2 separate regions of the Homo sapiens genome follow, and region 1 is linked to region 2. Evidence: fine-mapped expression QTL. A gene starts in region 2. The other region holds a variant in brackets. All regions are shown on one strand. Distances are between the middles of the regions. Region 1 overlaps FREM1 (FRAS1 related extracellular matrix 1). Region 2 holds the start of CER1 (cerberus 1, DAN family BMP antagonist).

Evidence for each region.
Region 1: its variant is fine-mapped to the expression of CER1 in sigmoid colon (GTEx, PIP above 0.99).

What each region holds. Positions count from the first base shown.
Region 1 is chr9:14,863,049-14,868,435 of GRCh38, forward strand. FREM1 (FRAS1 related extracellular matrix 1) reads right to left here. Exons shown (of 37, transcript NM_001379081.2): 3 at 761-855. Among named protein-coding and RNA genes, the nearest start is that of FREM1, 45 kb to the right of the region's middle. The variant T/C (reference allele first, on the strand shown) is at 3,340.
Region 2 is chr9:14,719,907-14,725,293 of GRCh38, forward strand. It overlaps CER1 (cerberus 1, DAN family BMP antagonist), which reads right to left and starts at 2,827. Exons shown (of 2, transcript NM_005454.3): 1 at 2,260-2,827; 2 at 1-480. The coding sequence starts at 2,766. The coding sequence ends at 184. RefSeq lists enhancers at 1,975-2,914, 2,915-3,852.

The sequences.
Region 1 (5,387 bases), 140 kb after region 2:
AAAGAATTTTAGGCCAGTCATGGTGGCACATCCCTGTAATCCCAGCACTTTGGGAGGCGGAGACAGGCAGATCATGTGGTCAGGAGATCAAGACCATCCTGGCTAACACGGTGAAACCCTACCTCTACTAAAAATACAACAAATTAGCCGGGCGTAGTGGTGGGCGCCTGTAGTCCCAGCTACTCAGGAGGCTGAGGCAGGAGAATAGCTTGAACCTGGGAGACAGAGGTTGCAGTGAGCCGAGATTGCGCCACTGCACTCCAGCCTGGGTGACAGAGCAAGACTCCGTCTCAAAAAAAAAAAAAAAAAGGAATTTTAAATATTTAATATGTTTAAAAATGGAAGATATTGCACTTTCTGTAACTAAACAGCTGGTAACAAAAAAGAAGAATTTCATTCATTTTTGGAATATATTTTCTCCCTGATTTTCATTAAGAATTTGTAGTTTATAATTTCCATTTTCTACCATAAGTGGTGGGTTGGAACACCAGAGATACCTATATAAGGACACTAGAGGGAAACAGGATACGGCTAAAAATTTGCCACAGAAGAATCCTAGGGAAGATGACACAAGTGGAAATAACTGAAAGTTGGCTACAAATCTTGCCTGATCCACTCAGGCCTCCAGTTTCTGTTGATTACTTTCTTGTCTGGAATCTATTAACTCCCCTCATGACAATACATATCCACAAGAAAAGCCCTCATAAGAACACAGAATGGTTACTTGGCAGCAAATGAGCGATGTTCCCGTGCCGCTTACCTGTAAAGTCTGAGCTTCACTGTGTCTTCATCAAGAATTGGACAACCATTGTGAACATACTTGACTTCGTTGGGAAGGAAATGGCAGTCAAAGACCTAGTTCACATGAAGAATTGGATAAATATCTATGAGAAAATTGGTACAAGATTTAACATTTTGCCAGGAGAGCACTGCCTGGAGAAAATATGCTCTGTTAGTAATGTGTGTATGTGTGTGAGTGTGTGTGTCTTCACCACCACCACCTCTACCCTACCCCCATACCCAGTCACCATCCTACTTATACAGCTGTCTCTTGTTTTGAGAATATCTAAGTTGTGAAAACCAAAGCAGTTCAAGAAAATTAGTTAAGGGATGATTACGTCTCTAAATAAGTGTCTTTTTACCACCTAGAGTGCATTTAAAACATACTTTCATTTTTCGAAATTTTATTTACCCCTTTCAGGGGTTCACAGCAATTGAGTTAGAGAGTTCTTTCTGTGTGTCTGCATGAAAAGGCATGCTTTAACCCACCCACAAACACACTGTATTCTTTCTGTATATCTGTGTTCTCCTTTCATTTCTTTTTTTTTCCGAATAGTATTCTCATATTCAAAGATGAAGCCACTGACTATGGACACTACTGTGGTTAATCAGAGCCTAACATGACCCAGAGTTGTGTCTTGCATACTTGCAAAAAACTGCTTTCATTAGTTAGGCAATAGCAGAAATGGCAGATGAGAAAAACAGAAATCTAAAAGCAATTTCCTCTATTCAAATAAAATTATAATGAACTGTCTCAACTCACTCAGAATTATTAGGAGATTGTTAACTGTTATATTTTGGGAACCTGATTTTTAGAGGAAGAATCATCTCTCCCACCCATATCATGCCCTTCATTCTGCCCAATCTGACTCTGGTAGAGTTCTAATACCCTTGAGGTATGCACGCATGTCCACCATTGTGTTCGTGGTGTTTCGTCTGTACCTTTTCACAGCCTCAAACATTTTCAGACAACATAATTCACTCAGAGAAGACTTTACCACTAATACAAACGATTTTCTTTTCCCGCAGATATCATTGATTCCTCTTTTAAATTGACAACTAGGAAGGAGATAAAGCAAAGACCTTCCCCATATCATTGACAAATAGTCATGGTAATAAAGAGACAGTCTGCTTTGTTAAAAGAAACATCTGTTTTATGTTTCATAATATGTTTTCCTTTTATAAAAGGCGACAACCATAATTGTCCATAAATTTACTAACTAAAACAAAGGAGAGCTAAATCCTTTTCTAATTACTGTCTAGCTTTGTTTTTTTCCACTTCAACTGCTTTTCAATTACAATTTATAATTAAATTGTCACACATTCCTAGCTCATTACTCACTTTAATGACAGTAAAATGGTTCAAAGTAGAGATACTTTCTTACCGCTATATTTCCTATTCAAAAAAGCAAGTTTAGTGCTAACCTGGGGTGCTTTCCACCCAGCAAATTTCTTGCTTTGGGCTAGGTGTGAGAAGTGCCATGTGTGAGGGAGTCTTGTCCTAAAACATGAGGAAAACATATTGCCATCAACCTCATCTAATTGACTATATCAAGAGGGTTATCTGAACAGAAGGCACTGGTGTGCATCAACTGAAATCCCTTTCCAAATATTCAACAGGAAAATGAACCTGTTGATCCTAAGACAAACTTCAGTAATGAAATGAAAACACTAATTGAACAGATGTTAAACAAAACATTTTCTGTGCAAGTCACATGAAACTGTTCATTACACAGCAGGGTGTTGTTAATACAGTCGTCTTGCTAGAAATGGGTTCACATAAGCTTGGCTTTCAGCTTATTACTAAGCTCTATTAAAGAATAATGTTTAGGCTGTGTGTGTGTGTGTGTGTGTGTGTGTGTGTGTGTGTGCACATGCACTTAGCTATGCTTAATTTCTAAAACTCCATAAGGAACGAACCCCTAGGGAAGGACTGAACCAGCCTGCGTTAAAAACCAAGCACAAATTCAACAAAACAAAACAGACTTAGGAATCTTGTTTTTGTTGAAATTATGAGAATAACAAATAGGAACAATCACCTGGCAGTTTGAGAAACAAAGTTCTCCCATGATATAGATTTCTCTCACACACAGTTTTAATATTTGGCCAAAAAAAGTACTGAAACTCCATATTTTAATGAACTCCTTTACCACAGAATAAATATTAGAAGATATAAATCCCATACCGACTTTAGAGGCTATAAATCCATTTGAGATGTCATATTTGCCTCTGGAAATACATACACTAAGTATTCATGACTTGATTCTACTTTTTCTTAATGAGCAATAGCAGGCTAGGGAATCAGTATATTCAGAGGTGTTTCTCAGCAACCAAGGCAATTTGTGGTTTCTCCTCTATACTGTCTTTCTAGTAACTGGAGTTTTACCTTAAAATCAGAGAGTGTGAGATGGAGATGACTTGCAGGCCTATTCCAATCCTTGATTCTTGTGAACAAATGTTTTTTACCTAGTTCTAGTCACTTGGATCCCTTTTTGCTCCTCAGTGCCTTGGAGCAGGCCAAGCAATCAGGACCATTAAAACATCACTAAAGATATATAA[T/C]GGGGACAATTTTATTTCTCTCAGAGAGACTGCCATATACGGTAAGGAGTCATAGGCCATTTGAGGTAGGGAGAGGAGAGCTCTCAGAGGCTGGCTTAGGTAACAATAGATTATCTCCAAATTGCCTACTAAGGAGAATCTGGTCATCTGCAGGGCTTTTGTTTTGCTCAGTTGGGCATGCATGCTTGAGGTCCAAACTGGAAGACAGCTTAGACAGCTTGCTCCTGCGAGCTACCAGTGGGAATTTTCCTTCTTCTCTTTTTCACAATATACTCAGGCCCACTTCTAAATAAATGTTGAATGATTTTTAAAAATATATTGATTGGAAGAGGTACCATATTATCAATCACCAGTCTTTATAAGACACCCATATGTGCCAGTACAGCCCTGGGTTCCTGCTTTATCAAACACCCCAGTCCTCTAGGATCAGGTGTCCTATTTTACCCTCTCTCAAAACTCTACAGGCTGCATTTTCCTTTCTTTTTTTTTTCAGACAGAGTCTCACACTATCACCCAGGCTGGAGTGTAGTGGCACTATCTTGGCTCACTGCAACTTCCGCCTCCCGGGTTCAAGCGATTCTTGTGTCTCAGCCTCCCGAGTAGCTAGGCTTACAGGTATGTGCCACTACGCCTGGCTAATTTTTGTATTTTTAGTAGAGATGGAGTTTCACCATGTTGACCAGGCTGGTCTCTAACTCCTGGACTCAAGTGATCCACCCGCCTCAGCCACCCAAAGTACTGGAATTACAGGCGTAAGCTACTGCAACCAGCCTGCATTTTCCTTTCGACCCCAGTCCCTGTAGTTGGGTCTCTATCACCCACTCCTGAGCTTATTTGTATTGCTTCCTCATCCTATGTAGCACATTGGGGTTCTAGTATGAGCAATCCCAGGTATCTTCTTTTTCCCTGACTCGTAAGTGCCAATCAAAACACATTCAGAATGCAAGTATAATTGGGAGTAACTGAGGAGACACTGCAACTACCAAACACTTGGGAATACAATGGCTAATATGTGGAGCCATTGTTGAATTCTAACATGTTTTAGATACCCATCTAAAGCTCTTTGACTGACGATAAAATCTTACAAGCAACTAGGCAGAGACATTTGGTTACTACCACATCAGAAATACCTGCAAAGTGAGACCCTCTTCCAAAGAATTCTGATGTGTTTCAGAATGGGTCTATAACTTGAAGTGTGGTAAATGGAGTGTCTAGAGACACCAGTTGAGCTAGTATCCATCTAAGTCTTTTTTTCTCTCTCTGTAATACCTAGTACCACTTTTCAATAACCTCGTGGATTAGTTTTCTTTAGCCAAATGAAAAGGAAATAAAGTTCATAGTTCAGCAAAAGAGAATGGTCCATTTTTCCAGAAGCAGCAGCAGCATCTAGTGTTGAATATTCTCAAGATTGTTTGCACTGGGAGCAAAGTTACAGGACAGTGGGAACAAGTAATAAAATCAGAAGCAATTTTTTAAAATTATGTATAGTGGTAACTCCTACTTTAAGCAAAAACAGTGTTAGAGAATATAGACTTTTTAAACCCAATGAATTAGGAGGTAACTCTTCACTCTACAAGAAGATTGACAATAGAATACCCTTAAATATAAAGGTCTCCAAGATTTTGATTAAAAGGAAAAAAATTAAGCAGATAATTTCAAAGAACAGTGAATATTTAAAGTGAAGTATCTTCACATCTCTTTTCTACTTCTTTTCCCTTACTCAGAAAAAATGTTTAAGTGATGTTAATAGATGAAACATCTTCAAGTTTTACCTTTGCTATGCTAAGGTCACAGGTATGTCCTAAAAATGTCTTGAAATCTTGATCTCTTATCCAAAGCCACTCTGACTGGCAATGGATGTGATAACTCGGGGCAGGAATAACTCCAATGTAATTCTCTTACATGATGCTTTGCGCTTTTTCCTGTATAATTAGCTACTCTATAAGGTCAAGCAGCTGGTGAGATATACCAGAGTTATCTTCAGGAAAGAGGAGAAATTGGAAAGACTTACTGAAACAGTGCATTATTAAGAAAAAAATTACATGCAT
Region 2 (5,387 bases):
AAGGTCTCAAACGTGTACCAATAACTAGACTAATATCATTTCCTCTATCGTTCTAATTTAAAACTACGTTTCAAGTCACCTTTCCCTGAAAATGTTATGTACCCACTTAACATTTTCAGACTGAATAATCAGCATCTTTGCTGTTGTGGTTTTGCTTTTCAAAGGTAATAGTGGGATAGCTCTTCAAGCTGAAACTCCTGGGATAAAGGAATCCTGGGAGCCAGCATGTAGGATGTGTCCATCTTCATGCTCCGTCTTCACCTTGCACTGGCACTCCTCCACCAGCATCACCACCTTGATCACGGAGGAAAGTTCAGTGCAGTTCAGTGGCAAGTGCATCGTGGTGAACTTGGCAGGCAAACAGTGAGAGCAGGAGGTATGGGAGTGCTGCGCGGCTCCAGGAAAATGAACAGACCCGCATTTCCCAAAGCAAAGGTTGTTCTGAACAACTACTTTTTCACAGCCTTCGTGGGTTATAGTCTAAAAAGCAAACACATTTCCATTACGTTATTTTGAATTATTTCTTTAACACACATAATGCAGAAGCTATGGACTGTAAATCTGAGGATAATTTAAAAATTTCAAAGCTTTCCAATTTTGGATACAATTTGCAATATGCAAGTGATGGTATCTATAAGGGCACAGAACCACCTCAATTAAATTTTCTTTATTGAGTAAATTATTAAACAGCCTTTAGGGAATCCCTAAGTTAACATAAAAAATATTTTACTCTACATTATTCGTGCAAAACCTTAAGCAATTTTGTCTAATTGGATGTGAGCGATTGAAAAATTCTAATGGTAATTATCTTACATAAGTAATGTGCCTTACTTTTTTATTCCTCACAGGGCTTTGTGCATAGTAGGCTCCCAATACATATTTGTTACATTGATCGTAGAATAGATCAGAACATTCTAGGTTTAATTCTATCCTATTCTGCAAGACCTGTAGTACATTCAAGTCTATGAAGTTGTATGCAAGCAGAGTTACAATGCATATGCCTGCAAATCATTGTATATTACATCACCTTTACCTCTCATAACTCCAAGCACCTAGCTTTATATGCCTTTCAAAATATGTAAGAGTCAAACATCTTAGTTTTAATTTAATTAGCAATAGAATTCAAAAGAAGAATTTCAAAAGAAATTTGATTGCCTGATTCTTAGGGGTAATTTTCTAATTGCACATGGCCAACAGAGTAGTCATTATTATTTGATAATTGACTTGCCATTGCTACATATCCTTGCCTTTTCAGGCAGAATACTTAACTGCCTTGAACAGTCAATTGCCCTATTCTATTGCTTGCTTAATTGGGTAGCATTACTCGACTATAAAATTTTACTCTACCCTGCATGTTTTTGGTTCAATATCTTCATGTTTAAGGACCTAATGCAAGTTCTCAATTTTAATTTAACATTTGGAATGTAGATATTGCCAGAGGAAGTAGACAGTAGGATGTCCCTTTGTCTTAATAGCATGGAATTGATCATAATAACTACAAATCAGCCAACACAACATGAATCAGGAGAAAGGTACTTCTAAGGGGAGGAGATATGATCTCACATCAAGATTGATTTTTTAAAAAGCTCATATGAGAAAATAAGTGAAAGAAAATCACTTTTTTGCTATCATAATACTAGAAATGATATGACAACTTTTGCCTGAGAACCTCAACGTACTTTGAGGTTGTGGGATAGCTTTAGCAAGCTATTAAAGAAGTCCCTCATAAACCTATAAAGTAATTAAGTATGGACTATGGGGATTAAGACCATCGTAAATGGATATGAGAGTATTTGGGAAGGAGTCCAATGCACCCCACTTTATCAACAAATGGAGTTGACCTGCTCATCCACATATTAATAGAGTGCAGAAAGATAGCTACAGAGGAGTTCTGGTGATTACTCTAAATTCTCAGTTTCCTAACTGAGGGTACAGTCTGACTTATATCTCTGAGTAGATCACCTCCAATGCAAAAATAAATAAATAAAACAGAGCTCTGTGTCTTCAGTGTGAATGAATGATTACTGATATTGACAGTATCATCATATCATTCTTGCAGCATTTCCACAATGCCAAGAAAAAATGGAAAGGCCAGAAGGAAACTTAATCTTTGCCAAATCCTATGATGAATGCCCAAGGACCAAATCTGTAGTTAAGCTAGAGTCAGGCTCCTGACAGCCTTTTCCCCTACTCTCCATCCATCCCAGCTGTCCACTACCACCTGCAAACTCTTACCTGCTCTCCCCCCAGAACACATACCTGGCTGAAGGGCACTGTCCTGCAGGTCTCCCAATGTACTTCATGGCTTTTGATGGGCAAGATGACCCCCTGAGAAGCCGGAGTTTTTCTGAACATGAAGTGGTGCCAGAATTTCTTGGCTTCTTCCCGAAGAGGAGATTTCTCCATTTTCATTCCATCTATCGGCTGGATGAGGGACTGGGTCCCAGGTGGGAAGGGCTCACTATCTGAGTCCCTGGATGGATGCATTTCTCTCTCAGGCTTCTTCCAGAACCTGCCAAATCTGGACAGCATCTTCTCTCTCTGCCTCTGGCCTTCCCCTGCAGGGCTGGTGGCTACAAGGTGTGGCACTGCGACAAACAGATCTGGCTTCTCCTCAGCTTCCTCATGGTTGCCTGTGGGAAGCTCTCTTTGATTCCTTGGCAGGAGTACGGGGGAAAGAGAACTCTGATTCTGGCGGCCATCCTGGTGCCGTGTGGTCTTTCCTAGAGGCAGGAGTACCAGCAGCTGAAATAAGAGGAGATGCATGCTGTCAGGGGCCCAAGCTTCTTTTGTAAATGATGAGGCCCAAAGGAGAGGCTCATTCTCTGCAGGACTGGGAAAAAGGAAATCGTATATATAGATACCTGCCTGGCGGGATGGGAAGGCAGGTGGTCAGTAGCCAGGCAGAATAAACACATTTATTGTTTGCTTGAATTATGTAGTGCTAATGGCCTCCTGCCGTCACTTTGGTTTTGTGTATTTTAAAAGGCCCCAGTGAAAGCCTGGGACCCAGGGGGTAATTAGCTAAGAGTTTAGCTATGTCTGGGGCTTAAAGAGCAGTATTAGCAAAGACAACACATTCTTTGCCTAAATTTCCCATGGCTGTTTTCAGAAGAAGGACTAGAGTCAGCTCACATTTGCTGTGCATCTGCCTTGTGCTGGAATAGAATAGACAAGACATGTTGCTGTAAGAGAAGTTTTTGGATAAAAATTAAAGGCATACATTTAGAAAAAGCCCAGGCCTTTAGGAAGGCTATTCACACACACACACACACACACACACACACACACACACACACACACACGAAGAAGTATATCAAAGTTGTAAGGAGAAGAAAGGAAGAGCTAGAAGGATGTTAATTTTTTTGAGCAAGGGACATATTGTTTCTTACTTACATGCAAATTGGGGTTATTGATTTTTGCACAGTAACTGAGTAAAGGGAATATGTTTTCCTTTCCACACGTAGAAACTCACAATTCCCAAGTTAATCCTCTCACATTAAGAATCAATTAATGGGTGCTAAATTTCACAACTGGTCAGTCATCAGATAAACTCTTCCAATTGTTCACATGTTCCTCAACAGGATACCACGTAATAGACTGACAGCTCATCAGTCTTCAATGAGGATAGGGAAATGTCTCCCTCCAGCCATCCTATTGATTTTTTTTTCCCTTTGAACAAAGAGCCAGACATGAGAACGTGGATTCTAAGAACCAGGTTTGATAACTTTGTGTGTGACGCTGGCTAGTCAGTTTCTTACCTTATTGAATCCACATCATCTCCCCTTGTTTTACACTAATTGATGGCCAGGCTAAATAAAGATTGACACAAATAAGAGTCTTCGGGGATCAAAGGAAAAATTGAAAAATAACTATCATTCAAAACTATCATGAATCAGCCTAGGATACGAAAAAGAAACACGTCCAGAAAACTGAAACCCCAGAATAGAGTCCGATCAGCCTACCACATGATTCAAACAGTATTTCCACTGGGAAGCAATGCAATATCTGCTTTTATTTCTCCCCTTTTAATTCAATCACTATATTCCTTGCTTTCAATAACACAAATAGTCCTGGAACATGTTCCCCCTTTTTTGTCAATACTGATTAAACTTTCTTTCCAAGAAGTGACCCACTGGAGTCTGTTTTCCAGGCATTTCTGTTCTTCTTGATAGCCATGCCTGATTTCTATGAAATAAAGCCTTAAGTAAGTCCCTTTACCCATGATAATGAGCTATTTTTAACATGGACCATCACTTTACCAGAATGCCATGAGTGGAGATATATTGTACTTGTACCAAATATCTATGGAACGTGTGCTAGTATTAATGAAAGGTGCTGTTGATATATAATAAATAAGCATGTGTATTTGCCATTGTTTTTTTTTATTTTAGGAAAAGGGTTCTGCTCTGTTGCCCAGTCTGGAGTGCAGTGGTGCAATCATAGCACTCTGTAACCTCAAACTCCTAGGCTCAAGCAAGCCTCCTGAGTAGCTGGGACTACAGGCACACTACCACACCTGGCTATTTAAAATTTTGTGTTGTTGTTGAAACAGAGCCTCACTCTGTTGCCCAAGCTGCTCTGAAACTCTTAGCCTTGAGCCACCATCTTGCCTCTGCCTCCCAAAGTGCTGGGATTACAGGCGTGAGCCACCATGCTATGTCAACATCTTTTTTTTTTTAATTGACTGCTACTTGAATTTCTTAATTCCCCTCAGCCATCCAATGCTATACGCTTTCCAGAGCTAGTCACTAGGCCTCCTGGTATAATATGGTGTGGAAGCCAGCTGTGATACCTTTCCTGAATCCTTTTAACTGTTACTTTTCAGTAACTGAAATTCCATTGTTATCAATCAGAGTATCTACTATTTCCCAAAACTAAAGACAATCTCAGAAATTCTATCTCGGGTCTCAGTTTGCTTGGCTCTGGAATTACTGAACATGAGATACAGTTGAGATAATTCCTGTTGAACTGCAATGTGTAGAAGACTCACTTTGTGTGTTAAGAATCATATTAGATACTGGTAGATAATTGAAAAATGAGTAAAACTTTGTCCCTGCCCTCAAGTAGGTTAGATAGTCTAGTGGGATTTCTTATGCATCATCTAACTTTATTGTATAAAATCATCTATAGGGATGTCAGTTATCCATTTTTCACTTTCCTTTAGTCCTAAACTTCCCTTCCTCTGATCCTAATTTGGGGCTTATAAGTGCCATTTAAAAATCACTCACAGAGAATATCCTTTTGCTGTTCTGTCACTTCTTTTGAGAAAATGTGCAAATATCTTGAAATATTCTCCCTACTCCCATTAGTAAATACTATCCGTGAAAAGTAAATCTAGCAAAGCCAAGCCTTCTGTGATGAGAACTATGAAACAAGCCTATCTC